Linked DNA regions of Homo sapiens. The protein of the gene in region 1 purifies or fractionates together with the protein of each later gene. This does not show direct contact. Each region holds a gene or a part of one and is shown in the gene's direction. Other genes may lie near its edges. The genes, in order: MCAT, METTL17, ZYG11B and MALSU1.

The links.
Region 2: the proteins of MCAT (region 1) and METTL17 purify together in Homo sapiens (affinity purification with mass spectrometry; 2 studies listed by BioGRID and IntAct, with this or other methods). This does not show direct contact.
Region 3: the proteins of MCAT (region 1) and ZYG11B purify together in Homo sapiens (affinity purification with mass spectrometry; 2 studies listed by BioGRID and IntAct, with this or other methods). This does not show direct contact.
Region 4: the proteins of MCAT (region 1) and MALSU1 purify together in Homo sapiens (affinity purification with mass spectrometry; 2 studies listed by BioGRID and IntAct, with this or other methods). This does not show direct contact.

Annotation. Positions count from the first base shown.
Region 1 is NC_000022.11:43,133,208-43,140,919, reverse strand, and holds part of MCAT (malonyl-CoA-acyl carrier protein transacylase, mitochondrial isoform a precursor), read left to right. Parts: intron 1-3,621; coding exon 3,622-3,839; intron 3,840-7,433; coding exon 7,434-7,712. UniProt on the Homo sapiens protein: Catalyzes the transfer of a malonyl moiety from malonyl-CoA to the free thiol group of the phosphopantetheine arm of the mitochondrial ACP protein (NDUFAB1). This suggests the existence of the biosynthesis of fatty acids in mitochondria.
Region 2 is NC_000014.9:20,985,728-20,993,302, forward strand, and holds the start of METTL17 (ribosome assembly protein METTL17, mitochondrial isoform 2 precursor), read left to right. Parts: upstream 1-4,252; 5' UTR 4,253-4,275; coding exon 4,276-4,350; intron 4,351-4,502; coding exon 4,503-4,656; intron 4,657-4,736; coding exon 4,737-4,871; intron 4,872-6,396; coding exon 6,397-6,478; intron 6,479-6,813; coding exon 6,814-6,895; intron 6,896-7,390; coding exon 7,391-7,464; intron 7,465-7,575. UniProt on the Homo sapiens protein: Mitochondrial ribosome (mitoribosome) assembly factor. Binds at the interface of the head and body domains of the mitochondrial small ribosomal subunit (mt-SSU), occluding the mRNA channel and preventing compaction of the head domain towards the body.
Region 3 is NC_000001.11:52,764,069-52,771,780, forward strand, and holds part of ZYG11B (protein zyg-11 homolog B), read left to right. Parts: intron 1-6,951; coding exon 6,952-7,706; intron 7,707-7,712. UniProt on the Homo sapiens protein: Serves as substrate adapter subunit in the E3 ubiquitin ligase complex ZYG11B-CUL2-Elongin BC. Acts to target substrates bearing N-terminal degrons for proteasomal degradation with the first four residues of substrates being the key recognition elements.
Region 4 is NC_000007.14:23,301,632-23,309,343, forward strand, and holds part of MALSU1 (mitochondrial assembly of ribosomal large subunit protein 1), read left to right. Parts: intron 1-6,236; coding exon 6,237-6,318; intron 6,319-7,712. UniProt on the Homo sapiens protein: Required for normal mitochondrial ribosome function and mitochondrial translation. May play a role in ribosome biogenesis by preventing premature association of the 28S and 39S ribosomal subunits.

The DNA of each region.
Region 1 (7,712 bases):
TATCCTGTGCACTCATACCTGCAGCACCTGCAACACGAGAGTATGTGTTCAGTAGATATTCGTTGAATTAAAGAGTAAATAAATATTGGATCTGGAGCCATATCAGTTTTACTTCTTAAGATTTTTGCTGGCCAGGAACCATGGCTTACGTCTGTAATCCCAGTGCTTTGGGAGGCCAAGGCAGGAGGACCACTTGAGGCCAGGAGTTCCAGACCATCTTGGGCCACATAGTGAGACCTTCATCTCTGCCCCCAACAAAAAACAAAAATTACGTTGGGTGCAGTGATTCACACCTGTAATGCCAGCACTTTGGGAGGCAGAGGCAGATAGATGTTTGAGCCCAGGAGTTTTAGACCACCCTGGGCAACATGGTGAAAACCCCATCTCTACCGAAAATACAAAAATTAGCCAGGCATGTTGGTGTGCGCCTGTAGTCCCAGCTCGAGTACTTGGGAGGATGAGGTGGGAGGATTACCTGAACCCAGGAGGTCAAAGCTGCAGTGAGCTGTGATCGTGCCACTGCATTCCAGCCTGGGTGACAGAGTGACACCCTGTCACACACACACACATACACAAAATTAGCTGCACTTAGTGGCATGCATCTGTAATTCCAGCTACTCAGGAGGCTGAGGGAAGATCACTTGAGCCCCTGAGTCTGAGGCTGCAGTGAGCCACGATTGTGCCACTGCACTGCGGCATGGGTGACAGAGCAAGACCCTGTCCAAAACAAACAAAAAAGAATCTAGTATAGAAACACGAGAGGTTATTGGGACTGGAGAGGGAGAAATGGAGAGTGCCTACATAGTGGACATGGAGTGTTTGAAACTAGAGAGAGTTGGTGGTTGTACAACATTATGAATACCCCAAATACCACTGAATTATACACATTAAAGTGGTTAATTATATTTTATGTGAATTTCACTGCAGTGCTTTTTTTTTAAGCGTTATAACATTATTAAGGAAAGTTTCATAATTTCACATTTTATGAAACAATTTTATTACATGTATCATTTTATGTGTACATAATGTGCAGAATTAGGCTTGGTGTGGTGGCTCACGCCTGTAATCCCAGCCCAGCACTTTGGGAGGCCAAGGTGGGTGGATCACCTAAGGCAGGAGTTTGAGACCAGCCTGACCAACGTGGTAAAACCCCATCTCTACTAAAAATTCAAAAATTATCTGGGTGTGGTGGCGTGCACCTGTAATCTTAGCTACTTGGGAGGCTGAGGCACAAGAATCACTTGAACCAGGAGGCAGAGGTTGCAGTGAGCCGAGATTGTGCCACTGCACTCCAGCTTGGGTTAGAGAATGAGACTCTGTGTCAAAAAAAAAAAAAAAAGTGCAGAATTATAGCATAGTTACACTTTTGTGTTTTCTTTTTCTTTTTCTTTTTTGAGGCAGTATCTTGCTCTGTCACCCCAGCTGCAGTGCAGTGGTGCAGTCGTAGCTCACTGCAGCCTCAGCCTCTTGGCCTCAAGTGATCCTCCCGCTTCAGTCTCCAGACTAACTGGGACTACAGGCTCACACCATCATGCCCAGCTAATTTTAGAAGTTTTTGTAGAGATGGGGTCTCGCTATGTTGCCAGGGCTGGTCTGGAACTCCTGACTCAAGTGATCCTCCAGCTTCAGCCTCCTACAGTGCTGGGATTACTTACAGGCATTAGCCACTGTGCCTGGCCTACTTTTTTCCCTTGACATTTTACATAGTTTTGAATGTCTCTGTGGGAGGATGTCTGCGTGCTCTCCTCCCTTTTCTTGTATGTTTTCTTCTACTTCTTGTCACAGGCTCTTGTTCATTTGTTTTTTAAGAGACAGAGTTTTCCTCTGTCTTCCAGCCTTGAGTGCAGTGATGCAACCATAGCTCACTGCAGCCTCTAACTCCTGATCTCAAGCAGTCCTCCTGCCTTAGCCTCCTAAGTACCTGATGTCACAGGCTGTTTATGTATTTGTCCTCCTGTTCTTGTGTAAGGGAGCTAAAAGTCCAGTACATAGAAGTGCTAAGTGAATGAAGATATGTCAGGATTTGCTCCTTAGACCTCTCTGTTGACCTGTGAAACACTGTGCAGGTCCCTTAATCTCTTCTCAGTCTGGTCATCTCTTCTCTCTGCCCAGGAAGCAGGACCAGGGTGTCAGGGGTCTGGTAGTTTCAGGCCATTCTTATGTGTGGCTTTGTAGGGATTTTTGAGACAGGGTCTCGCTCTGTCACCCAGGCTGGAATACAGTGGCATGAACACAGCTCACTGTAGCCTCAACTTCCTGGGCTCCAGCAATCCTCCCACCTCAGCCTCCCAAGTAGCTGGGACCACAGGCGCACACTGCCACGCCCGGCTAATTTTTGTATTTTTGGTAGTGACAGGGTTTTACCATGTTGTCTAGTCTGGTCTCGAACTCCTGAGCTCAAGTGATCTGCCTGCCTTGGCCTCCCAAAGTGCCGGAACTACAGGTGCGAGCCACAGCGACCAGCCCTCAGGCCACTCTTATTATCATTGGCACTGCCTGCCCTCTCTCCATGCTCTTGAGCCACACTGAATCAGGAGTCATAGGTTTTCGTTCATCTGCATTGGCTGTGTCAGGTTCTCCAGCTCTAAGTGGGGACAGTAACACTTGACTTATGACAATTATGTCACTGAAATTCATGTAGTACAGTAGCCCATGTCTCTGATGGTTCTTTTTTGTTGTTCTTGTTTTGAGACAGGGTCTTGCTCTGTCACCAGGCTGGTGTGCAGTGGAGCAATCATAGCTTACTACAGCTGCAGCCTCAACCTGCTGGTCACAAGTGATCCTTCCGTGTCAGCCTCCCAAGCATCTGGGACTACAGGCAGGCACCACCATGCCTGGCTAATTTGTATTTTATTTTTTGCAGGGACAGGGTCTCCCTATGTTGCTCAGGCTGGTGTCGAGCTCCTTGGGCTCAAGCCGTCCTGCCTCAGCCTCCCAAAGTGCTGGGATTACAGGCATAAGCCACCATGCCCGGCCTGATCTCTCTTAATAAACTAACTAATAATAATTCCCAGCTTTCACAACAGCCCAGGCAGATTAGATATTATTATCCTCATTTTACTAACTAAAAATTTGAACCTCAAGGAGGTTGTGACTTGGCTAAGGCAATGTGGCTTCCACCCTGTTCCTCTTTACCTTTTACCAGGGTTTCTCAATAGTGGCACTATTTAAAAAAAAAAAAAAACAGTGGCGCTATTGGGCCAGGTCATTTGTTTTGTTGGGGGCAAGGGGGGCTGACCTGTGCAGTGCAGCATGTTGAGCAGCATCCCTGGACTCTACCCACTAGACGTCAGTGGCACTCTCCCCTAGTCAGAACAACCGGAAAACGTCTCCGGACACTGCCCCCGGCCTGTTGAGCACCACTGTCCTACTCCAAACCAGCTTTATAGCAGGAAGCTCCTTGGGTTAGTTTGTATAGTGCCAAGCACAGCAGCATACTTTTGGTGGTGAGCGCTTGTGCAGTCGATGGAGGTGTGTGGAACTGTGGCCCTGCTGGCTGGTGGCAGACACCAGTGCCCCTGTCTCTAGTGCAGAGTGGAGCTTGGGCTTTGTTTCTCAGGCCTGGCCTTTTCTCCTTCATTCTGTGCCCTCATTTTTCCAAATGCGCTTCTCTCTGGCCAGGTTTGTATGCAGTGAAAATCCGAGCTGAGGCCATGCAGGAAGCTTCAGAAGCTGTCCCCAGTGGGATGCTGTCTGTCCTCGGCCAGCCTCAGTCCAAGTTCAACTTCGCCTGTTTGGAAGCCCGGGAACACTGCAAGTCTTTAGGCATAGAGAACCCCGTATGTGAAGTGTCCAACTACCTCTTTCCAGATTGCAGGGTGATTTCAGGACACCAAGAGGTGGGTGTTGATGGGAACTGCCTTCATAGGCCAGTCCAGTACGGAGGGTTGGAACTGCTCCACACCCGTGAGGCCTAGCAGTCTGGCGGGTGCTGGGTCCAGCCCGGTCTTTAGGAAGTATTTTGGGGCCAGGGCAGTGAGGTAGACCGAGTGCTGCAAAGCAGGCAGGAGCAAGAATGCTGCCCTGCTCCACCACGTGTAGAATGGGGTCTGGAACCAACCAGCCAGCCCATGTCTAAAGTAAAGGGGCAGGGCCAGCTGATCTCCAGGGCCCTTCCCGTAGTACATTCTGGGCTTCTGAGGAGCCTGTGATCTGGTTGCTTCCTTAGAGAAAAGAGATTTGTTTTCTGCTAGATTGCTCTGCCTGCCCTGCTTTTTTTAGGTGTCTGTTTTTGCCCTGGAGTTCATTTCCTTTCCACCGTATTTCCTTCCATTTGCTACTTCCCCAAACATTTATCAAGGGCTGGGGACGCACAGACTGATTAGCCAGGGTTCCTGCCGTCAAAGGAAGAGCCCCGTGAATGGATGACTCCAGGCCGAGGGGTGCAGTGAGGGTCTGGCTGGCTACTCATGGGCCTAAGAGCAACCCAGGAGGCAGCAGCTGGAGGACGGGCATGTGTTTGCCAGCAGGGGGCACCCTGAGCAGAGCGGCAGGAGCCCCCTACAGAAAGAGCAGTGGGTGCTGAGTGCCTGGCTCAGGGAATGCTGAGTGAGCGCAGATTGCAGCCCGTGTGAGGGGCTGCTGCCCGGGCCAGGCATTTCTGTCTTACTTCATGTCCCTCACAGCCCATCCTGTGCTATATGGAAGGAAGGGATTCTTTTTTTGTTTGTTTGTTTGAGACAGGGTCTCACTGTGTTGCCTAGGCTGGAGTATGGTGGCACCATCACGGCTCACTGCAGCCTGGACCTCCTGGGCTCAAGTGTTCCTCCTACCTTAGCCTCCTGAGTGGCTTGGATTACAGACACGGGCAACCACACCTGGCTAACTTTTGTATTTTTTTGTAGAGACGGGGTTTCACCGTGTTGCCCAAGCTGGTCTTGAACTACTGGGCTCAAGGGATCCCCCCACCTCAGCCTCCCAAGTAGCTGGGACTACAGACACAGGCCACCACACCCAGCTAAAGGAAGGGATTCTTAATCACATTTTCCACACAAGGATGCTGAGGCAGAGAGAGGCAAGTGCTTGGGGATAGTAGAGGCAGAATGGGAACCTGAGTCTGTCTCACTCTGGAGTCTGTTTCCGCCACTTGACCGTGCTTGGCTCCCCTTCCCCTTTGAGGGCTCACCGTGTGCCAGGCGTCCTCAACTGCCTCCTCTGAAGTAGTGAGAGCTGGCAGGAGCCTCTTATGACTGTTCTGAGATGGTGGGCAGGTCAGGTATGGTGGCCCCAGGTCAGTCTTGGAGCTAGTTAGGCGTTCCCTTTACCAGCCTTGGAAGGAAGCCCAGAAGTGGCTCAGGAAGGACTTCCCAGTCAGGGCAGGAGTCTCCCCAGTAGGCTCCCAGACAGGTGCACCCAGTCTAGGTGACAACTCCTAGGTTCATCCTTTTGATTTTTTTTTTTTTTTTTTTTGTTTTTTGAGACAATGTCTTACTCTGTCATCCAGGCTGGAGTGCAGTGGCACGATCTTGGCTCACTGCAACCTCCACCTCCTGGGTTCAAGTGATTCTCCTGCCTTAGCCTCCCAAGTAGCTGGGACTACAGGTGCATGCCACCACACCCAGCTAATTTTTTGTATTTTTATTAGAGACGGGGTTTTACCATGTTGGTCAGGCTGGTCTTGAACCCCTGACCTCAGGTGATCTGCCCACCTCGGCCTCCCAAAGTGCTGGGATTATAGGTGTGAGCCACTGTGCCCAGCTTCCCTTTGGTATTCTTGGTAGTGCCACAGCAAAGAGCTCAGGTGAGGGCAGGGGTACCCCCTCAGGGGGGAAGCCCCTTTCCAACAACTGATGTGAAAAGGCTCCTGGGCCCTGCTCGCCCAATGCCTGGGCCAAGGACTGGCCATTGGAGAGGAGACTGCTGGCCCCTGTGATGGTGACCTTGAGCCCTGTGGCCCTAGCCTGGGACTTGAGAGGGCTCAGCTGTTGAGCCAGAGTCCAGAGATCTTACACGGAAAGCACTTTGAGACCACAGATGCTCCAGGAAGTGCTACTGAGTAGCCATCCCCATACCTGCCAGTCACTCAGACAATCTAGGTGTGGAGGGAGGGGCTTGGGCTCCAGAGTCTGGAAGGCCCAGACCAAAGAGGCTCCTGGTTCCTGCGGTCCAGCCTCAGTGGGATGGAGCCACATGGAGGGTGATGGTGGAGGGGAAGCACGGGTGAGTCAGTACAGGCCAGGTTTTGTTGCAGTGACAAGTAGCCCACACCTCAGTGGTCACAGCACACAAGCACCGGTCCCACTCCTGGTCTGTGCTCGCCAGGCTGGGTTCTGCTTTTCAGCCCAGGACTCAGGCAACAGGAACAGTCTCTAGGGAACACTGACAGACTAAAGCAGGTGGATGACTTGAGGCCAGGAGTTCAAGACCAGCCTGACCAACATGGTGAAACCCCATCTCTACTAAAACTTAGCCAGGCGTGGTGGTACATGCTTATAGTCCCAGCTACTCGGGAGGCTGAGGCAGGAGCATTGCTTGAACCTGCGAGGTGGAGGTTGCAGTGAGCCAAGATCGCACCTTTGCACTCCAGCCTGGGTGACAGAACAAGACTTCATCTCAAAAAATAATAAAGACCTTTGCAAGTTCTGTTGCTTGCTCACTGTTGCAAGGGTTTTGGAGCTATTGGCTCGCCCGAGGCCCCTTCTGAGCTCAAATGCCTTCAGGGGAGGTTTTTGGCATCAAGAGGAGAGCTCTTTCCTTCTCCAGAGAAACCTCAGATGAAAGTGACAATATCCTAGACCCTGCATTGTGAAATGGGGCTTGAATTTTAGTTCTGAATTTTTATTTTGAAGATTATGGAATAAAAAGCAAACAGACTGGTCAAAAATTATGAAAGGAGTGATAGAATTCTCATTGAGATCCGGGTGCGGCGGCTCATGCCTGTAATCCCAGCACTTTGGGAGGCCGAAGAGGGTGGATCACGAGGTCTGGAGATCAGCTAATACAAAAAATTAGCCGGGCGTGGTGGCGGGCGCCTGTAGTCCCAGCTACTTGGGAGGCTGAGGCAGGAGAATGGTGTGAACCTGGGAGGCGGAGCTTGCAGTGAGCCAAGATTGTGCCACTGCACTCCAGCCTGGGCCACAGAGCGAGACACCGTCTCAAAAAAAAAAAAAAAAGAATTCTCATTGAGAACTAACACTTCTTAGATAGTGCGTTTTCCTCTACCAGACACTGTTGCATGCCTTGTAGGGTTTGCTCTTCCTGGCAGCGTTGTGAAGTAGATGGAACTGTGCTTATTTGAAGGCTGGGACAGAAGAGATTCCAGGATGTTAAGTGAATTGCCTGGGGATGGTGCTGGGACAGACAGGTCACATGTCCACATCTAGCAGCTGTGGGTCTCTTTGTGGTCACCCTCCCAGTTTGGCCCTGTGAATGGTCAGATCTGTAAAGGCGGATTTCTGGGACATTGCTCGGCTGAAACCTCCTTCCTTCCCCAGGCTCTACGGTTTCTCCAGAAGAATTCCTCTAAGTTTCATTTCAGACGCACCAGGATGTTGCCGGTTAGTGGCGCATTCCACACCCGCCTCATGGAGCCAGCCGTGGAGCCCCTGACGCAAGCTTTAAAGGCAGTCGACATTAAGAAGCCTCTGGTTTCTGTCTACTCCAACGTCCACGCGCATAGATACAGGCATCCCGGGCACATCCACAAGCTGCTGGCCCAGCAGCTGGTCTCCCCAGTGAAGTGGGAGCAGACGATGCATGCCATATACGAAAGG
Region 2 (7,575 bases), on another chromosome or scaffold:
CAGTGAGCCGAGATCATGCCATTGCACTACAGCCTGGGCAACAAGAGTGAAACTCTGTCTTAAAAAAAAAAGAAGAAGAAGAGGAAGAGGAAGAAGAAAGAGGAGGAGGAGGAGGAGGGAGAGGAAGCTGAACTGGCTTGTAGAAGATTTCATAGATGTCTGATGCCCACAGTACTATCAGAGCTTGAACAAAAACAGCTCCACCAAATTCAAAGTAGAAATTTGGAACAAGATTTGAACAAGAAAAAAAATACCACTTCCCATAACACAGTCTCCTCCTCTCCTAGCTTTAGCCCTTAACACAGAGTGTGGCACATCTAACATGGTCAGTAAAGAATTCCACCAACTCAAGAACGAAAAATAAACTCCCTATCATGGATAAATGTCTTTCCCCATTATATATCTTTCTTTCCTCTTTATCTTCTCTTTCTTCATCCCTTTCTTCTCACATTTTTTCTTCATTTTCTGTATAATAGCAAGTCTCCTAGGCCAGGTGGCTGTGCTGGCCATTCCCAGTAGTTCTCAAAAACACAAACAGATCCTTCTGGAAAGTTCTGTCTTGAATTGGTCCCTGTTGCAGGACAGTACATTAGAAATGGTATTTCTAGAAGGCTTGGAGAAGTAGATGATAAGCCAGAGTTTCCTTCTTGGGATTCCTCTCCCGAGTCTGAACTGGAAACCATTGACCTAGTTGTTAAACAATGGAGGCCCCCAACCCAGAACATTTTAATGGGATAACTTTTAGATTTTCTTGAGAAACATGAACTGAGAATAGAAAGACTTCTACATTCTCTCACTGCCCTGGCCATTCCGGTCCCTATTTCAGGGTCTCAGTCCCTCAGGAGAGATATACGAGACCCCCAATGGGTGTCCAATCCTTGGATTTTCCTCTAAGACTTTATCCATGTGTTAAGAGTCCACAATGCACCTCCAAAGAAGCTCCTGTGTGACCACCATTCATCTTCTGAGGATATCAGCGATCCTTTCATGCCATCCCATGCCAAGACTAACACTGCTCTGTGGTGATCCCCCATCCTATATCTGTAGGAAGCCATGCTGGGTCTGCCCGAGCCAGAGTTTTCAAAATCTATAATCCCTCCAGAACCTCCTTGCTTTCCTCAACATAGATTTTTGCCAAAGGAGATCAGATCCAATTGGAAGATCCCTCCCCCGCAGCAGAATACTTTGTAATTGGATTAGTCTCAACAGCAACAGTAGTTCTGGCCTTGAATATGAGTTAATCAGCCAAGTCACAACACAAGAAAGCTGACTGCACCAGAAAACCCTGTACAATCCGTGAATTTCTTCATGGTTGAGACTCAGATGAATCATCATGTTGATCTGACTCATGCTTCTCCCTGCCTTAGGCCAAGAGACTGAGGCTTCACCTGGGATCTGCCTCTTTCCCACTCAAGAGTCAAATGAGCCCCCAAGGAGTAAGAAAAAAATGTGATTGATTCTGATTTGCACCCCAGTCTTTTTTTAATTTATCATAAAGAATCAAATATTTACATTAGAAGATATCTTGTGCTGTGAAAAAAAAGGAATAAAAGAAGGGAGGAAGAAAAGAAGTGGGAGGGTGGGAGAGAAAGGAAACAATAGAATAAGGCAGGCGCGGTGGCTTACGCCTGTAATCCCAACACTTTGGGAGGCCAAGGCCAGAGGATCGCTTGAGCTCAGGAGGTCAAGACCAGCCTGGGCAACGTGGAAAGACCCCATCTCTCGAAAAAAATAAAAAATTAGCCAGGCACAGTAGCATACACCTGTCGTCCCAGCTATTCAGGAGGCTGACGTAGGAGAATCGCTTGAACCTAGGATGTGTGGCTGCAGTGAGCCATGTTCTCACCACTGCACTCCAACCTGGGTGACAGAATGTCACCTGTCTTAAAAAGAAAACAATAGGCTAGAAAAAAAAGAAAAGAAAGCAGTAAGTGACATAAGACCAAGAGGAAAAAGGGAAACTTGAGCATCATCTGTCCTCCCAGTGGCCTACGGAGGGAAAAGAGTAGACACTTAGCTTCACAGTCCACCGCAAATCAGGCAGGGTCACTTCTGCAAACACTGGTAACCTACTAAAACCCAAGCACAGAATAAGACAGACACTGAGATTCAGAGATAAAGTCAAGATGGCTCCTACTGTTGCAGGGGAACTAGAATGACTCAGAATCCCAGACAGGTCATGTTTGAAGAGGCCATTCATTCACTCCCATTGAGGTGAAAGTTGCATCCCTTTCTCCCTTCTCTCCTTCTCTTATCCTGGAGCGCAAACATTGTGTGGAGTGCAAACATTGTGTGGAGCCCCTACATAGGCGCGGTGGCTTATGCGTTGGAGTTGAACTACTATGAAGGTACTTGAGATCTGGTGATTCCCTTGGATAAATTTCCTACAAGGAATCATTTCACAAAGTTTTATGGACAGAAAATGCCCATAATTTGGATGGTGGCTTTTGGAGCCGTGACATGATCTCAGCTATATGAATAGAATTATAAGGACAAGATGCTGAGGGATTTACTCAAGAGCTCTGACTAGCTGACAGTAGAATCTTGGCAGATCTTCCAACACACACATCTAGTATGGCCCAATCTTCAGAATTATCTGTGCATTTGGGCAAGAATAGGCCCCATCGCCAGCACCCTGGCATTTGGGCAAGACTCGCACAAAAAATGAGGGATGGCTTCAGGAGTAAGAACCTTTGAGACGGCCTGGGTTGTGGACTTAATAGTCTGGAGAGATATCAACAGGTATCAATTTAATTTAATGGTTCCATTCCTCAGATATCTCTAGGGCAGAGTCCTCAGCCCAGGGCACACACAGAATCACGACTCTGAACGTGAGCATTCTCACTGGAGGGGTAGAGGTCACTGTGGTGACCCTTTTGAGCACCCAGGAAAGATTCCCAGGTAAAAGGAGGACTGAGGAAAAGCTGGAAAAGAGGCAAGTGTCAGCCTAGGATGTGTCAGTGGGCCATGCATTCATCTACAGGAAGGGCGGTTCCGCCTGGAAGAGGCAGAGCGGCCCTTCTCCCCCTGTCCACCCATGTCTCCTCACCCCACCTCACCCCGAGATGAGGAGCCCTGAGAGAGCTGGCAGGCTGCAGTCGGTGAGGTCTGCAGATTTGGGGAAGAAGTCGAATAAGGTAGAGAACCACAGAAGGAAAGTCCAATTAGGGCGCTGGGGCCTGAGATCATCAGGCCCTAGCCTGATGACTCAGGAGTCTAGCCCTCCAGATGAACTGGCTGGTTCCACACACAGGTCAAGTGGATGTGCTGGGAGAACATCCTAAACCTGTAACGGAAATTAGGGGGCCAGGAGCCCACAGAAATCACACACTGGGTGAGCTCAAGTGTTCGGAGACTGAGGTAGCAGTTGTCCACTGTCAGGTCCCGAAAGTAGATATCGCCTTGCATATGCCATTTATCCTTCTGATGCTCTAGTGAATGAAGGTGTTGATGAGCTTGCAGACTCTGGAGACCATTCCCCTATGCTATATTATCACGTCACAATAGTGGCTGGACCCACCTGAGATTCTGCACCTCAGGTAATCAGACGGCTACTGTCTAAGTCCTGGGCCTGGGGGAAACACTCTGACGTAGCAGCAGACACAGGAGGGTCCCCGTCAGAACCATGTTTTCTGTGAAGTGGGGATCAGTCCTTTTCCCTGAAGTACCTAGCACATAGGTGTTCTCAGTAAGTGTTATGTTAGCTTACTAAGAAGACTGGTCTCATTTGAAGAGAAATTAACAAATGTAAAAAAATAAATAAACCTATTAACTAGGTTTAATATTTATCAAACTATTAACTATTCAATAATCATTTAACTATTAATTTCTGTTTTCTTCAGTCGCTTAAATCTGATTTTTCTCTTCTTTCCGTTACTGCAGTCTCCCTTTTTCACACAGGGAAACAACCCAAGACTCAGAGTTCTCCGCGGAGGAATGCAAAGAACACAGGAAGTCAGTACTCCCAGAAACAGTCTTTGCTGGCGCGCTCACACCCAACCCCATCCCGCCCCCGTCCCGTCCCGCCCCGCCCCACCCCACCCTCTTGATTTCTGGGGCCGGTGACCAGGCCCAACGCAGCCTTCAAGTCGGCCCAAACACGGTTTCTGCCTCAAGGATTATTTATATAACCATTGCTTATTGGCTGCTGGCAAACACTCGCTCTTCTCGTTGGCTGAAACTGTCGGGAGAAGTTCTGCGAAGGCTGCTCCTTGCGGCGTTGGGACTGAGGGTCACAGGCACCTGTATTTCCGTTTCCGGTTCGCCTCCGGAGCCATGGCGGCGGCACTGAAGTGTCTACTGACATTAGGAAGATGGTGCCCCGGCCTTGGAGTGGCTCCCCAGGCCCGGGTGAGTGCCTACATTCCCTGCTGTCGGAGAGACTCTGGATCTGCAGAGACATCTCCGCGCAGAGGAGGAGCGCTCCTGGCAGCCCCCGCCCTAGCGATTGCCAGCAACTTTCCTTTCTGCCAGGAAATCAACCTACCTTTCTCTGCCTGCAGGCGCTCGCCGCCTTAGTACCCGGAGTGACCCAGGTAGATAACAAGTCCGGTTTCCTGCAGAAGAGGCCTCATCGCCAGCACCCTGGCATCCTAAAGCTGCCGCACGTGCGGCTGCCACAGGCACTGGCTAACGGTGCCCAGTTATTGCTACTTGGTGAGTAACGGCGGGAAAGCGAGAAGAAACGGGACTGGACCTACATGCAAGTGATTCCGCTTTTCGTCTTTGGCCCATAGGGAGCGCTGGGCCCACTATGGAGAATCAGGTGCAAACACTGACCAGTTATCTCTGGAGCAGACATTTGCCTGTAGAGCCAGAGGAGTTGCAAAGACGGGCTAGGCATCTTGAGAAAAAATTCCTGGAAAACCCAGGTAGGACTTAAGAATAATTAAAAAGTGGGCGAGATTGAAATATCGGTTAGAAATGAAGAGTAAGAAATAATTCTACAATCTCTCAGATACTGAAGTCTCTTATTTGACTTTCTAACCAGAGCAGCAGTTGTTACAATGATGCCTTACTAAAAGAAGGTAGATTATTTTAGAGATTGCTTAGGTAAAGGTCAGAATGTCCCAGTATACTGTTTTTTGTTTGTTTGTTTGTTTTGTTGTTTTGTTTTTGCTTTGAGACAGAGTCTTGCTCTGTCACCCAGGCTGAAGTGTAATGCTCGATCTCGGCTCACTGCAACCTCCGCCTCCCGGGTTTAAGTGATTTTCCTGCCTCAGCCTCTTCAGTAGCTGGGATTACAGGCGTGCACCACCACACCCGGCTACTTGTATTTTTAGTAGAGACGGGGTTTCATCATGGTGGCCAGGCTAGTCTCGAACTTCTGACCTCAGGTGATCCGCCCACCTTGGCCTCCCAAAGTGCTAGGATTACAGGCATGAACCACCGCGCCTGGCTACCAATATACTGTTAAAATCTAGATATTTATTTTTTTCTGCAAGTCCACTGGATTAGGACCTTCTAAGTTTTTATTCAGGTAAAATAAAGTCCCTGGATGGTCCCTGCCCAGTACTGAAACCCTCTTCTGGGATAAGAGGGTAAATATAATTCATCAAGTTAGTTTCATGATTGTGAGCTCCTTGACACTACCATTTATTCATCTTGCATTCCCTGCACACCTCACAGTACCTGGCTCACAGTAGTTCAGTAGATACTTGCTAAATAGTACTGAACTGAACAGTCATGAGACGTAGATTTTCAGATTTCTTTCCTCTCCATAGGAATAGTGGAGATCATCAAAACCTTAAATTTTGGAGAAGTGAAGAAATCCAAAAAATAATGTCCTTGGCCTACCCTTTAAAAAAAATTTTTTTTTTTTGAGACAGAGTCTTGCTCTGTTGCCCAGGCTATAGTGCAGTGGTGCGATCTCAGCTCACCACAACCTCTGCCTCCCGGTTTCAAGTGATTCTCCTGCCTCAGCTTCCCAAGTAGCTGGGAATACAGGTGCACGCCACCACGCCTGGCTAATTTTTGTATTTTTCGTAGAGAAAGGTTTTCACCATGTTGGTCAGGCTGTTCTCAAACTCCTGACCTCGTGATCCGCCTGCCTCAGCCTCCCAAAGTGCTGAGCTTACAGGCGTGAGCCACCGCACCCAGCTTACCCTTTAAATTTGTATCACACTTTCCTTTAATATAAAACAAACCTGTGGGACAGGATTGGTTAAGCTGAATAAACCATTCTTATAAATAAAATGCTATCTGATACAATCTGTTAGTGGTAGTTGTTACCGTTAATTCTTGCCTGAAACTTTTCTCTAGGTTTGTCGTCTCCCTTGAGCTTTAAGGCTTTTCTTAGGTGGAGTCGGGGAGGACTGGGTGGGCAGTATATTCAGATATTGGATCTGAGCCCTGTTCTCCCTAGGTCCTGACTTCCAGTCCTTGTTCTCACCACAGACTTATCTCAGACAGAGGAGAAACTTCGTGGAGCAGTGCTACACGCACTACGTAAAACTACCTACCATTGGCAAGAACTGAGGTAAGGGGGCCCAGAAGAGGTGCACAAGAAAGCAAAGGTAGACTTTAGAAAGAGAGTTGGGGGAGTACAATTACACAATCAATTTAGTATTTTCTTTTATATCACCTGACCTTAAAAGGATCAATTTAGTATTTGAAAAAGCTAAAGTACAAAGTTTTGAACACTGAAGTTTGAAAATTTAGTGTTTGTAAGTCTCCCCAGGACCCTTTTGTATTGGGGAGTGAAAGGCCTGAGCTGGAAGAGCCCTTTCCAAGATGTCATTTTCTAAATCTAGAAGGTAATTATGGGATTAAGGTTATTTACTAGTATGTACAACTCTGTGATTTTAATGGCAGCTACACTGAGGGACTGAGCCTGGTGTATATGGCAGCAAGACTGGATGGTGGCTTTGCAGCAGTCTCCAGAGCATTCCATGAGGTGAAAGTCCCTTAACTTCCAACCTGAACTTTTTGACCATCAGTTCCCTATTCATAAAGTAGTTTTCTAGGATGGGGATTCTTGGGACATTGCATATGCATTTTTTTTTTAAAGAGGATCTCCGCTGGACATAGTGGGCTCCTGCCTGCAGTCCCAACTGTTTGGGAGGCTGAGGCAGGAGGATTGCTTGAGCCAGTTTGAGGCTGCAGTGAGCTGTGATCTCCACTGTACTCCAGCCTGGTGACAGAGTGAGACCTCATCTCTTAAAAAAAACACAAAATAAAGACGTTCTCTTTATCCTGTGAAAGCTTTCTGTGACCCAAGAAAGGTTTAGAATCACTATTTTAGGAGATTCTTATCCCATAAGGTATTTGTATTGAATCTCAAAAGGCATTCACATCTCACATCCTCTGTGATAGCCTCCTAATTCACATTTATCAAGGTCCTAAATAAGTATCTAATTACCCTACTGTGGGATGTTGTATATTTCTTCAGATCCGGGCTCGAAATCCAGCATTTCAGCCACAAACTTTGATGGACTTTGGCTCAGGTACTGGTTCTGTCACCTGGTGAGTAACTTTCTTCAGCCCTATCTTGGTCAATTTTAGCTCTAGAAAGCCATACTTACACCACTCCAAAATTAACAGACTGGAAAACCAGAGGGAGAATAGGCAAGTTGG
Region 3 (7,712 bases), on another chromosome or scaffold:
TCCTTGAAAGAAGCCCTTGAGTTATCATTTAGAGCATGTTGATTCTTTATTTTATTTTATTTTATTTTATTTTTGAGATGGAGTCTTGCTCTGTTGCCAGACTGGAGTGCAATGGCACTATCTCGGCTCACTGCAACCTCCGCCTCCCAGGTTCAAGTGATTCTCCTGCCTCAGCCCCCTGAGTAGCTGGGATCACAGGCATGCACCACCATGCCTGGCTAATTTTTTTTTTTTTTTTGTATTTTTAGTAGAGATAGGGTTTCGCCATGTTGACCAGGCTGGTCTCAAACTCCTGACCTCAGGTGATCCACCTGCCTTGGCCTCCCAAAGTGCTGGGATTATAGGTGTAATTTACCACACCCAGCCAAGATTTTTTTAAAATAAGAAAAGAGCATGAGTTCTATAAATCGGTCCTAGGTCTGAGTCCTGGTTCCAACATTAATTTGCTCTTTGACCCTGGATAAGTTACTCTGCAAGTCTAAGATTCCTCATCTGTAAAGTGTTGATAATTATAACTCCCTCACAGGGATTACTGTGAATATTTAAATAAGACAATGAATGCAACATGAATCTTGCTTTCATGGAGCGTATAGTCCAGTGGGAGACACAATTAGGAAGTAAACATATAGAATTACAGCTTGTGCCAGGTTCTCTGAGGGAAAAAGAACACTGTTCTCTTAAGAAGAATAATAAAGGAAGGGAGATGTTTTAACTTGGATGATCAGAGAAAGCTTCTAAAGTGGTGATACTAGACTGAGACCTGAATGACAAGGAGGGAAGTCAGTAACATAAAGGCGGGCTCCTCGGCACTGCCCAGGAGTTCTGGAGTATTTCCCCAGTAAACTAGTGTTCCTAACAGTAGTTTCAGATGTTCTTTGCTCTTCTCAGACTTTCTACCATTTATCTTAGGAAGAAAATTGAAGCCATCAGATAAAATTCCCTTAACTCCATGTAAACCACTGCTTCCAATTTTTCTGAGTGATCTTTTTTTTTTTTTTAATAGAGATGGAGTCGCACTATGTTGGCCAGGTTGGTCTTGAACCCCTGGCCTCAAGGAGTCCTCCTGCCTTGGCCTCCCAAAGTGCTAGGATTATAGGCGTGAGCCACCACATCCAGCCTATCTTTTTTTTTAATTAAAAAAAATTATTTTTTGAGACAAGGTCTGATTCTGTTTCCCAGGCTGGAGTGTAGTGGCATGATCATAGCTCACTGCAGCCTTGAACTCCTGGACTCAAGCAGTCCTCCTGCCTCAGCCTCCTAAGTAGCTGAGATCACAGGTGCATGCCACCAACATCTGACTAATTTTTAAAAATTTGTAATGGAGATGATGTCTTTCTATGTTGTGCAGGCTGGTCTTGAACCCCTGGGCTCAAAGCAGTCCTCCCACCTCAGCCTCCCAATTACAGGAATGAGCCACCACACTCAGTTTTTTGTTTTTTGTTTTTTGTTTTTTCCCAGTCAGGGTCTTACTCTGTCACCCAAGCTAGAGTGCAATCATAGCTTACTATAATCTCAAACTCCTGGGCTCAAGCGACCCTTCGACCTCAGCCTCCCGACTAGCTAGCTAGGACTACAGGTATGTACCACCATGCCCGACTAATTAAAATTTTTTGTTGTTGGGATGGAGTCTTGCAATGTTGCCCAGGCTGGTCTCAAACTCCTGGCCTCGGGTAATCCTCTTGTCTCATCCTCCCAAAGTACTGGGATTATAAGCATGAGCCACTGTGCCTGCTCATTATTTCTTTAAGTACTTTTTCAGCCACACTGTCTTTCTCCTGTCCTTGAGATATTCCAGTGACACAAATATAGCTTTAGGTTTTTGGTTTTGGTTTTTTTCCCATTCTGTTCTTGTTATTTAAATTAGGTAATTTATGTTGTTTTATCTTCTAGTTCACCAGTCTTTTTTCTCTGTTCTCTATTTTACTGTTGACCTCAAGCATTATTATATTTTTCACTTCTAAAATTTTTATTTGATTCTTCTTTATATCTTCTCTTGCCTTGCTGAGTCTGTTTTCATTTTTTTCTTTTTTTCCTTATTAAATTTTTTTTAAATTTTTTTTTTTTTTTTGAGATGGAGAATCTTGCTGTGTCGCCCAGGCTGGAGTGCAGTGGTGCGATCTTGGCTCACTGCAACCCCTGTCTCCCAGGTTCAAGTGATTCTTCTGTCTCAACCTCCTGGGTAGCTGGGACTACAGGCGTGTGCCACCATGCCCAGCTAATTTTTGTATTTTTAGTAGAGATGGGGTTTCGTCATGTTGGTCAGGCTGGTCGCGAACTCCTGACCTCATGATCTGCCTGCCTTGGCCTCCCAAAGTGCCACCGCGCCTGGTCTGTTACTCATTTTTTTTCAAGCATATTTGTTTACTTTTGAAAATTTAATTGCATTTTTTTATGGCTCCTTTAAAATCGTTGTCAAATAATTTTAACATTTCTGTTACCTTACTGTTGGCATATATTGATTATCTCTTTTTGAGTTTGAAGTCTTACTGGTTCTTAGTATGATTCAGAGTAATTTTTTATTGAAACCAGGACATTTTAGGTGATATGAGACTTTTCTGTTTTAGTTTGAGTCACTGACGTCACTCCAGCAGTGGAAGGTAGGAGCACTGCCTTGTTACTGCCAGATTGGGGTTAATGTTCTTTGTAAAAATTTTTATAGGCCAGGCACAGTGGCTCACGCCTGTAATCCCAGCACTTTGGGAGGCCGAGGCGGGCGGATCACGAGGTCAGGAGATCAAGACCATCCTGGCTAACACGGTGAAACCCCGTCTCTACTAAAAATACAAAAAATTAGCTGGGCATGGCAGCGTGTGCCTGTAGTCCCAGCTACTCCAGAGGCTGAGGCGGGAGAATGGTGTGAACCCGGGAGGTAGAGCTTGCAGTGAGCCCAGATCGCGCCACTGCACTCCAGCCTGGGTGAAAAGCGAGACTCCGTCTCAAAAAAAAAAAAATTATTTTATTTTATTTATTTTATGTTATTTTATTTTATGTTATTTTTATTTTTTATGTTATTTTATGTTATATTATTTTGTTATGTTTTATGTTGTTATTTTATTTTATTTTGTTATTTTATGTTGTTTTGTTATTTTATTTTATGTTATGTTATTTTGTTACGTTATGTTATTTTATTTTATTTTGTTATTTTATGTTATTTTATTTTGTTATTTTATTTTATGTTGTTATTTTATGTTATTTTATTTTGTTATTTTATTTTATGTTATGTTGTTATTTTATTTTATGTTATGTTATATTTGAGGTGGAGTTTCGCTCTTGTTGCCCAAGCCGGAGTGCAATGGTGCGATCTCAACTCACTGCAACCTCCGTCGCCTGGGATCAAGCGATTCCCCTGCTTCAGCCTCCCAAGTAGCTGAGATTACAGGCAGGCACCATCAGGCCTGGCTAATTTTTTGTGTTTTAGTAGAGACGGGGTTTCACCATGTTGGCCAAGATGGTCTCGATCTCCTGACCTTGTGATCCATCCGCCTCGGCCTCCCAAAGTGCTGGGATTACAGGTGTGAGCCACTATGCCCAGCCAGATTAGGGTTAATGTTCTTTCTGGTTCCCCACTTGGCTTCTCTTGACACCCAAGGTGCAGGGCTATGCAGAGGTTGGAATTCTGACTCCCCACTAGGATTCTATTGATACTTCCCTAAATGAGAGGGGTATGGGTATGTCATTTCTGCTTCCCAGTTGGCTTCTACTGACACCATGTTGGGAGGAGGTGGCCTCATTACTGTTGGGCAGTTGTGAAAGTCCTGACTTTCCACTAGACTTCCTATGACAGCACCCCAGCAGGGAAGCAGGTAGAGAACTTCATCGCTGCTTGATGAGTGTTGAAGTTCAGGCTCCCCAGAAGGTATCTACTAACATCGTGGTGGGGGATAGTTCTTACTACCCAGCAGGAATGAAAGTCCTTGCTCTCTACTCAGACTTCTCTAACACCTCCCCTGTGGGCAGATTGGGGCAAGTAATTACAGCCTGGCAGGGGTAGAAATCTAGGCCCCTATTGGCATTTGCTGGCATGGGTGGAGCTGCAGTTTTTTCTGTCGTGTTTGGCTGAAGTAGAGCAGTTACTGTCTACTAGCTGTTTCCTGTCTTACTAGTTGCTGCTTTCCTGGTACGTTGGCTAGAGAGAGCAGATTTTGGGGGAGGTTTTTGTCTGTGCCCATTGGTGTTTCCAGGCTGCTGGCTCCTTCAACTTTAGATCTGGGATATATGACCAGAAAAAAACCAGGAACTTTTCTGCGTTGTTCCATGGGTCCCAAGGTCCCCCCTAGCTGATCTGCTTTCATCTCTTCACCTTTCAGAGTGATCTAGCTCCAGCTCACCTTCAGCCTCATTTCTTCTGTCCCATTTGCATGCTTATATCCCCAGAAATGCACTGCATCTATGGCTCTAGCTATTTCTTATGTTCAAGCAATATAGAAAGAACTACTTGCCATTTCCTAACCCCGTGATATGCTTTCACATCTTTAAGACTTTGCTTATGTTGTATATTCTTGCTTTAATATACCTAACCTTCTTCCTCTTTTTTTTTTTTTTTTGAAATGGAGTCTTGCTCTGACGCCCAGGCTGGAGTGCAGTGGCGCCATCTCGGCTCACTGCAGCCTCCGCCTCCCAAGTTCGAGTGATTCTCTGCCTCAACCTCCCAAGTAGCTGGTATTACAGGCGCGCACCACCACACCCATTTAATTTTTGCATTTTTAGTAGAAACGCGGTTTTGCCACGTTGGCCAGGCTGGTCTCGAATTCCTGGCCTCAGGTGATCCATCCGCCTCGGCCTCCCAAAATGCTGGCATTATAGGCATGAGCCACTGCACCTGGCCTACTAACCTCCTTTCTCTATCTTTGAATTCTTCCAGCATTTTCAAAGGCCTTACTCAAAGATCACCTCTCCCATCAAATCTTTTCCAGATCTTCATTCATGATGGTTTACTTCCTTTTCTTTGTTTTTGTGATACTTTATACTTGACATTGATATACCATATATCTCATTTTGTTATGGCTGTTTGTGTCTTTTTTACTCCATGGGATTATGAATCCTTTGACTATAGGGGCATATCTTATTTTTCTTTGTATCTACAACATTTAGAGTACTTGACATATAGTAATTGTTTAATAAACTGTTTGCTGAATGGACCCCATCATGAAATTTACTCTCCTGAAATAGAGTGCAGGTAATTTGAAAGGCTGTCTCTAGAACTACATTGTTTAATCGAAATGTAATTTTAAATTTACCGGTGGCCACATAAAAAAATAAAAAGAAAAACAAGTGCAACGAGTTTTAATAATTTTTATTTAACCCAATATATTAAAAAATGATCATTTCAACCTGTAGTATATATAAAAAATTGAGATACTTTACATTATTTTGTTGTATTAAGTCTTCACAATCTGGTGTATATTTTGTACTTTATAGCTGACCTCACTTTGTACCACCTGCTTTCCAAGTGCTCTCCAGCTGTGTGGAGCTAGTGACTATGTATTGGGCAGCACAGCTCTAAAATGTAATGGAGTTCTTAATATGTAATTAGTCATTTTTGTCCACTTTGGCAGGTTTTGCACAGGCCTTTCTTGATTTTAACTGTGTAACTGTAATTAAGTCTGCAAAACTCATTAGAGAATAGTGCTCCCTTTTAAAAACACCTCATTTCTAATTTAAGGGTGACTGGCTGGCAGCCTAGCTGCATTTTGAGTATGGGCCAGCTAAGATGCCGCCTTAGAGTTCCTCTCATGACTTCAGGCTATTTATTTACCTGTCCTCAACTGCTCATTCACCCCATACTATTCTTAGACTACCTGTTTTTGGCATGATTGTTACTTCTTTCACAGTCAATGTTGTTTAGTTGATATGTGATATGTTGATGTGCCTCCAGAGTATCATATGCTTGTGACACTGTTGATTGGTAGACAGGTAGATCTCGAAGGCACTTCAAGAGGTTACTGTGTCGACTTCATTTACATTCATCTGCAGGAGGGGGAGTGTGGGGGGAAGCTGTAACTACTATATATATATATATATATATTTTTTTTTTTTTTTCAGAGACAGGTTCTCACTCTGTCACCCAGGCTGGTGTGCAATGGTGCAATCATAATTCACTATAACCACAAACTCCTGGGCTCAAATGATCCTTCCATCTCAGCCTCCCTAGTAGCTAGGACTATAGGCATGACCACTGTGCCCAACTCGTTTTCAGTTATTTTGCAGAGATGGGGTCTTGCTATGTTTCCCAGGCCTAGATCGCTTTAATAAGGTTTGAGATCTGGCTAGTGGTTTATTAATGAATTACAAGGCATTAAGTGCATGCTAAATATATTATGTGTATATGTGTTTGTATAATAATATGTTAAGGTGAATTTAAAGGATAGGCTAGAAATGTATTGGTAACAAATCAAATACCTTAACACAAGGTTTATACCTCACTTGTGGTACATAAACTCTGCAAGTCCATAGAGGATTCTGCTTCATGGTCACCCTAGGGTCCAAACTGATGGAGGGTTTCTCCTCATATAACTATACTCTCTAGAACGTGAAGTCTCCTCGTTTGTCATAGCAGGAAAAGACAGCATGGAAAATCATGCACTGGCTCTCAGGTGCTTCAACATATAGTGCATTGGCCAGAACTAGGCACATGGCTCCAGCTAACTCCAGGGATGGGCTGGGAAATGTAGTTGTCTGGTAAGGTAAGAACTAGATGTTAGTGGATATCAATAATGTCTGCCACAGTCCTGATTCTGCCACTTGCTAGCCCTGTGATCTTGGAAAGCCACTCTCTGAGCCCCAGTTTACTCATCTACAAGTTGTAAACAATAATAATCTCACCTAAATGAATTGTGATTATCAGACGAGATACTGTTACATGGGAGCGCTTTGGAAATGTAAAGTGTGATGGAAATTTTGGCTATTCTTTAACTGTTTTTTGAATTTAAAACGCTGCTTGTTTTTCCACAGGTCTATTGAATGATGGAACTGTGGGTATTTTTAGGGGCAACCAGATGCGCTTAAAGCGAGCCTGCATTCGCAAAGCAAAGATCTCTGCTGTTGCTTTCCGGAAAGCTTTCTGCCACCACAAGTTAGTGGAACTTGATGCCACAGGTGTGAATGCTGATATCACGATTACAGACATTATCAGTGGGCTTGGCAGTAACAAATGGATCCAGCAGAATCTCCAGTGCCTGGTGCTGAATTCATTAACTCTCTCCCTCGAGGATCCTTACGAGCGCTGCTTCAGCCGGCTTTCTGGCCTTCGAGCTTTAAGCATCACGAATGTTCTCTTTTACAATGAAGACCTGGCTGAAGTTGCCTCATTGCCAAGATTAGAGAGCTTGGATATTTCTAACACCTCAATCACAGACATCACTGCTCTACTGGCCTGCAAAGACCGACTCAAGTCTCTAACCATGCACCACTTGAAATGTTTAAAAATGACAACTACCCAGATACTGGATGTAGTTCGGGAACTCAAACATCTGAATCATCTTGATATCTCAGATGATAAACAGTTTACATCAGACATAGCTCTTCGCTTACTAGAACAAAAAGACATCCTACCTAACCTTGTTTCTCTGGATGTTTCTGGGAGAAAGCACGTGACAGATAAAGCCGTTGAAGCCTTTATACAACAACGTCCAAGCATGCAATTTGTAGGTTTGCTGGCTACTGATGCTGGTTACTCTGAATTCCTCACAGGCGAAGGACATTTGAAGGTTAGA
Region 4 (7,712 bases), on another chromosome or scaffold:
ATTACGGTAGCCACTAGCTACATGTGCCTATTTAATTATAAATTAAAATATAAATTCAGCCGGGCGTGGTGGCTCAAGCCTGTAATCCCAGCACTTTGGAAGGCCAAGGTGGGTGGATCACAAGGTCAAAAGATCAAGACCATCCTGGCCAACATGGTGAAATGCCGTCTTTACTAAAAATACAAAAATTAGCTGGGCATGGTGGCGTGTGCCTGTAATTCCAGCTACTCGGGAGGCTGAGGCAGGAGAATGGCTTGAACCTGGGAGGCGGAGGTTGCAGTGAGCTGAGATTGTGCCACTGCACTCCAGCCTGGTGACAGAGCCAGACTCTGTCTCAAAAAAAAAAAAAAAGATATAAATTCAGTTCTGCAGTTATATTAGCTATATTTCAAATGCTCAATAGCCACGTGTGGCTAATGGCTACCATATGGGACAGCCATAAAGCATTTTCATCATTGTAAAACGTTCTATTGGACAGTGCTGGCCTGGAGTTTCATTCAAAGATTTGAGCATGTCCAGTGTTCCCAAGCACTGTACGGGGTATTGGGAAGGTAAGAACAAAAAAGATGTAGTCCTTGCCCTTACAGGTCTAGTTGAGGAAAGAAAGGGGGATTGTTTTCCAGTTGCACTGAATATGAATCAGAATGAGGAAGAAAGTACTTGGAAGCCTCTAGCTGACTCTGGTACCATTCCACGGGGCCATGATACCTTTCTTAGTCTTAGTCTGTTGAGAATTGGTCATAGAGGAGGCAGTTAAGACCAAAAGAGTAGCCAAAATTGTATAGAGAAAGGTTGTAAAATAAAAAGGTGGGGCCTATACACAAAACCCTGGTACATGACAGAGCAGAAGAAGATGCCAAAAACAGGGTAATTGGAGAGATAGGGAGAGAACTAGGAAAGCATAAAGAAGAGATATACAAAGACAGCATACCAGGGTCTCTATCAGATGTAATAGTGGGATGGAGTCAGAAGACTTAGTGACCATTGGACTTGCGGATGTAAAAAGAATGGGAGGTTTTACAGAGAAGTTTCTGTGAAAGAATAAAGAAATAGAAATTGCCTTTACAAAGATTTTAGATGAGAGAAATGCAAAGGCAAGAAAGTTTTGTTGTTTGTGGTAAAATATATATAACGTAAAACCTACCGTTTAATCTTTTTTTTGGAGACAAGAGTCTCGCTCTGTCGCCCAGGCTGGAGTGCAGTGGCTCGATCTCAGCTCACTGCAGTCTCCGCCTCCCGAGTTCAAGTGATTCTCCGGCCTAAGCCTCCTGAGTAGGTGGGATTATAGGCACCCACCACCACGCTTGGCTGATTTTTCTATTTTTAGTAGAGATGGGGTTTCACCATGTTGGTCAGGCTGGTCTCAAACTCCTGACCACCTCGGCCTCCCAAAGTGCTGGGATTACAGGCATGAGCCACTGTGCCCAGCCCATTTAACAATTTTAAACTGTGTTGTTCAGTAGCTTTAAGTACCTTCACATTGACTTACAATCATTACCACCATCCGTCTCCAGAAATTTTTTCATTTTGCAAAAACGAAACTCTGAACTCATTAAACAATAACTCCCCATTTCTCCTTCCGTAGGCAGCTACCATTCTACTGCCTGTCTCTATGAATTTGACTACTTTTCAGTATCTCATAAAAGTAGAATCATAGATTTGTGACCGACTTATCTGACTTAGCATAATGTCTTCAAGGTTCATCCATGTAGTAGCATGTGCCAGAATTTCCTTCTTTCTTAAGGCTGAATAATACTCTATCTTACGTATATACCACATTTTGTTTATCCCCTTATTCATTGATGGACACTTAGATTGCTTCCACCTTTTGGCTATTGTGAATAATGCTGGTATAAATATGAGTATAGAAATACTGTTCATGAGGCTGGGCGCAGTGGCTCATGCCTGTAATCCCAGCATTTTGAGAGGCCAAGGTGGGCGGATTGCTTGAGCTCAGAAGTTTGAAACCAGCCTGGGCAACATGGTGAAACTCCATCTCTACAAAAAAGACAAAAAATAAAATAAAAAATTGGCTGGGCTTGGTGGTGTGTGCCTGTAGTCCCAGCTACTTGGAATGCTGAGGTGGAGGATTGCTTGAGCCCAGGAGCTTGAGGCTGCAGTGAGCCAAGATTGTACTACTGCACTCCACCCTGGGTGACAGAGCAAGACGCTGTCTCAAAAGAAAAAAAAAAAAAAAAAAGGCTGGGTTCACACTTGTAATCCCAGCACTTTGGGAGGCCAAGGCGGGTAGTTCACCTGAGGTTAGGAGTTCAAGACCAGCCTGGCCAAAATGGTGAAACCCTGTCTCTATTAAAAATACAATAATTAGCTGGGTGTGGTGGAGGGTTCCTGTAATCCCAGCTACTTGGGAGGCTGAGGCACGAGAATCGCTTGAACCTGGGAGGTGGAGGTTGCAGTGAGCCGAGATTGTGCCACTGCTCTCCAGCCTGGGCAACAAGAGCGAAACTCAGTCTCAAAAAAAAAAAAAATTGTTTATGTCCTTGCTTTTAATGCTTTGGGGTATGTGCAAAGAAATGGGATTGCTGGATCATATAGTGATTCTGTTTTTAATTTTTTTTCTGTTCACCAGCCTAGCACAAAGCTGAATGTTTTTAATTTTTTGAGGAGCTCCTGTATTCTTTCATAGTGGCTACACCACTTTACATTTCTCTAGCAGTGCAGAGTTTCCAGTCTTCACATCCTCATCAACAACTTATTTTCTCATTTTGGTAATAGCCATCCTAATGGGCATGACGTGATATCTCATTGTGGTTTTTATTTGTATTTCCCTAAGGATTAGTGATGTTGAGCATATTTTCTTTTGCTTATTGGCCATTTGTATATATTCTTTGAAGAAAAGTCCTTTGCTTTTTTGTTTGTTTTAAAGAGACAGTGTCTCACTTTGTTGCCCAGGCTTCAGTGCAGTGGTGTGGTCATAGCTCACTGCAGCCTGGAACTTCTGGGCTCGAGTGATCCTCTCACCTCAGCCTCCCAAGTTGCTAGGACTAGAGGAGTAGGAGTAGTCAAATTCATAGAGACAGAAAGTAGAATGGTAGGAGTTACTCCACAGTGCCCAGCTAATTTATTTTTTATAGAGACAGGGTCTCACTATATTGCCCAGACTCTTTGCCCATTTTAAAATCAGGTTGTTTGTTGTTTTGTTGTTGAGTTGTAGGAGCTCTCTATATATTCTGGATATTAATCCCTTATCAAATATGTGATTTGCAGATGTTTTCTGCCATTCTGTGGGTTGCCTTTTTACTCTTTAGAGTGTCCTTTGATGCACGAAAGTATTTAATTTTGGTGAAGTTCAGTTTATTTTTTCTTCTGTTGCCTGTGTCTTTGGTATTATATCTAATAAATAATTGCCAAACCAGTATCATGTTTTCCCTATTTTCTTCTAAGAGTTTTATAGTTTTAAGTCTCCTGTTTAGATATTTAACCCATTTTGAGTTAGTTTTTGTAGGCGGTTAGTTTTCCATGTGGACATTTCCTCAGCAACGTTTGTTGGAAGGACTGTCCTTTGTGCATTGAATGGTCTTGGCTCCATTGTTGAAAATCATTTGACCATAGGCACAAGGGTTTATTTCTGGGCTCTGTATTCTGTTTCATCAGTCTGTGCGTCTGTCTTTTTGCCAGTTTCAGACTGTTTTGTTTACCATAGCTTTGTTCTAAGTTTTGAAATCAAGAAATATGAGACTCCAACTTTGTTCTTTTACAAGATTGTTTTGGCTATTTGGGGTTCCTTGAGAGTCCATATAATTTTTTTTTTTTTTTTGAGATGGAGTTTCGCTTTTGTTGCCCAGGCTGTAGTACAGTGGCACAATCTCGGCTCACAGATTCAAGCAATTCTCCTGCCTCAGCCTCCCAAGTAGCTGAGGTTACAGGTGCCCGCCACCATGCCCAGCTAATTTTTTGTATTTTTAGTAGAGATGAGGTTTCACCATTTTGGCTAGGCTGGTCTTAAACTCCTAACCTCAGGTGATGCACCCGCCTTGGCCTCCCAAAGGGCTGGGATTACAGGTGTGAGCCACCGTGTCTGGCCCCACATAAAGTTTAGGTTGGATTTTTCTGTTTCTTCAAAAAATATTGTGATCTTGATATAGATTGCACTGAATCTGTAGACTGCATTGGGTAGTATTGGCATCTTTACAATATTGTCTTCCCATCCATGAATATGAAGTATCTTTCCATTTACTGGCATCTGTAAGTTCTTTCAGCAGTGTTTTGTAGTCTTCATTGTACAAGTCTTTTGCTCCTGTGGTTAAGATTATTCTGCTAGGCTGCTCACGGTGGCTGATGTCTGTAATCCTAGCACTTTGGGAGGCCGAGGCAGGCAGATCACCTGAGATCGGGAGTTCAAGACCAGCCGCACCAACATGGAGAAACCCCGTCTCTACTGAAAATACAAAATTAGCCGGGCGTGGTGGCGCATGCCTGTAATCCCGGCTACTTGGGAGGCTGAGGCAGGAGAATCGCTTGAACTTGGGAGGTGGAGGTTGCTGTGAGCCGCGATTGCGCCATTATAGTCCAGCCTGGGCAACAAGAGCGAAACTCAAAACAAGAACGTCTCAATTAAAAAAAAAAAAGTATTATTCTGCTATTGTAAATGGAATTCTAAAAACTTTGTTTCCAGGTTGCTCATTGTTAGTGTATAGAAATACGATGGATTTTTGTGTGCTGAATTTGTTTAGTAGCCCTAACTGGGTTTTTTTTGTGGAATCTTTGGGGTTTTCTACATATGAAGTTGTATTGTCTTCAGAGATAATTTTACTTCCTCCTTTCCAATTTGGGTACCTTTTTTTTTTTTATTGACGAATTGCTCTGACTAGAACTTCCAATACTGTGTTGAATAGAAGTAGCAAAAGCAGGCATAGTCTTGTTCCTGATCTTACAGGAAAGCTTTCAGTCTCACCATTGAATATATTAGCTGTGTGCTTTTCTCACATGGCCCTTATTATGTTGAGGTAATTTCCTTTTATGCCCACTTTGTTGAGTGCTTTATTGTGAAAGGGTATTGAATTTTGTTAAATGCTTTTTCTGCGTCAGTTCAGATTATCATATAGATTTTTTCTTCATTCTGTTAATGTGGTGTTATTGCATTGATCCGTTTTTATATGTTGAACCACCTTGCATTCCAGGGATAAATCCCACTTGGTCATGGTCTATAATCCTTTTAATATGGTGCTGAGTTTGGTTTGCTAGTATTTTTGTTGAGGATTTTTGCATCAAATGTTCATCAGGGTTATTGGTCTTATGGAATGAGTTAGGAAGTGTTCCCTGTTCTTCAATTTTTTGGGGAGAATTTGAGTATTGCATTCTTGTTTAAATATTTGGTAAAACTCATCAGGGAAGCCATCTGGTCTAGGACTTTTGTTGGGAGATTTTTGATTACTGATCCAGTCCCCATACTAGTTATGGTCTATTGAAACTTTATATTTCTGCATGATTCAGTCAGTAGATTGTGTTTCTAGAAATTTTGCTATTTCGTCTAGGTTACCCAGTTGTTTGGTGTACAGTTGCTCATAATACTCTTACAATCCCATTTCTCTAAAATCAGTAGTGTCACTTCTTTCATTTCAGATTTTAGTTGTCTTTTTTCTTAGTCATTCTAAGAACCAAATCCTAGTTTCATTGATTTTGTCTTTTTCCTGCCCTAATTATCATTTCCTTTGATTTTGGGGTGATGTATATGAGATGTCCTTTGTCTCTTGTAACAGTTTTTACTTAATTGCCATCTTGTTTGATATTAGTATATCTGTTTTAACAAAAGAACTGAGCACATTTATAGGATGACGGGGTCCCATTAACATGTCATAAAGGCAGATGAGATGAAATCAGTGGCACTGAAACAACCTGGCTTTATAAACAGAAGGTAGTATCTGCAGCCCCTAAAGGTGAAGGAAAGCTGGGATGAACACAAGTGATGGATGTAGGTGGGTACCAAATGCTGACTGAGCTTAGCTTTTTCAGCCTCAGAGGCACCTTGGTGAATGAATGGGGTGACCCTCTCAGAAGGGCTGGGGCAGGAGAATTCAGGAGAGAGGTGAAAGTGAATAAGATTTAGAGGGAGAAATAGTTTCCCTAAGTTATTCATCACAGGGCAAAGTATAGCAATGAGAAATGAGTAAGAAAGATTAAAAAAAACAAACAAACAAACAAAAAAAAAAGACCTTCAGCAAGAACAGGCTTCCCCCATCCCCTCTCCCTTTAATAAACCACCTGGCTTTTTGCAGTACAAACACCTGAAATGTAAACGTGACCCTCATGTTAAGATAGAAGGGAAGGACACTGATGACTGGCTGTGCGTGGATTTTGGTAAGTTATTCTGGCGTATTTTACAGGTAACTGTTGGTACTACGCTAATCTTGAATTGTTTTCAGTTGCAAAAGGATTGAGATCAAATTGATGAATGTATTTCCAGGTAAGATTTTTGAAGTGTGTTTAAGGTAACAAAAGTTTTTTTAGTTATAATCCAGGTGGTCTTATTCACATGTAGAATTTTCACCTAACCAAACCAAAGTACCCTAGATGATGCCCTCCTGGAGGAAGATATATACTACATGGTGTGTATCTACTAGCCACACAGATCAGGAAGGTGGTGGACAACAGGATAACATAGTAGAGGCGGGAGAGATTCCTTAGTAGTGGTAGAGGAAGGTTTGGGGGCTGTGGTGCATAAATGAGATGAGGATGAGGTTATTCCAGGCACAAAAAAGGACAAGAGCAGAAGACTAGAATTTTGAAAAGATCTAACAACTTTGGGTATTAATGTGTACATAGTTTCAAAGCACCTCCCAACAAGATAATATTTACAAAGGGGAAACATAACTGTATGTCAAGAACTGAGGAGTCTGAGATTTTATTCTGCTTGTAAGCTAATACATTGTCCCGCCAGTTTTCATGGACACTGGTAAAAGACAAGACTATTAGAGGGTTAGAGACAAAGAACAGTTTATTACTCACAGCAGTAGCCAGCATCCATTTTGCACTGGTTTCCTGAGCTCTGGATTCCATAGGGCAACATGGGCCAGATGACACCAGCACACACAGTTGTAAAACTGGAACTCAGATGAGGGTGTCTAGGTTTTTTATAACTGGCAGGAAGCAGGCCTACTTTTGCTCTGATGGTTTCTCACTTTTGTCGCTATTAACGTTTTGGACCAGGTAATTTTGCATGTGGGGGAGGGGTGTCTCTTGTGCACGGTACGATGTTTAGCAGTATCCTCCCTTCTCCAATTGTGACAATCAAAAATGACTCTAAACATTACCATTATTACCTAATTGAGAAATGCTGCTGTAAGCAAAGCTGCCCTTTGCCCTGGAGGGAGGCAGTATCTTTCTGTTAAGAATATTCACGATACAAACATTCTTGGATAGTCAAAACAAAAGGCAGTCAGTGTTTTTGCACAAAAGATGTGCAGAAGTGTGTTACCCATGGAGAATTGTCACCGAAGAGAATCCTGACACCATTAGTCTCTTTGATAAAGTTACTATCACCAGCAATGTTATATATTGACATATGCCTCCTGTAGGTACACTGAGAAAGGCATAGCATCACTTCTGTGGTATTTTTGCTGGGATGGAGTCCACAGTGATGCTAATCTGGGAACCACACTTGAGAACCACTGCTTTATTCCTAGAGTTAGCCAGTGTGTGTTGTAAGGTAAGAATAAAAGCAAATGAACTATTCCTTCATTGTATCTCTTATC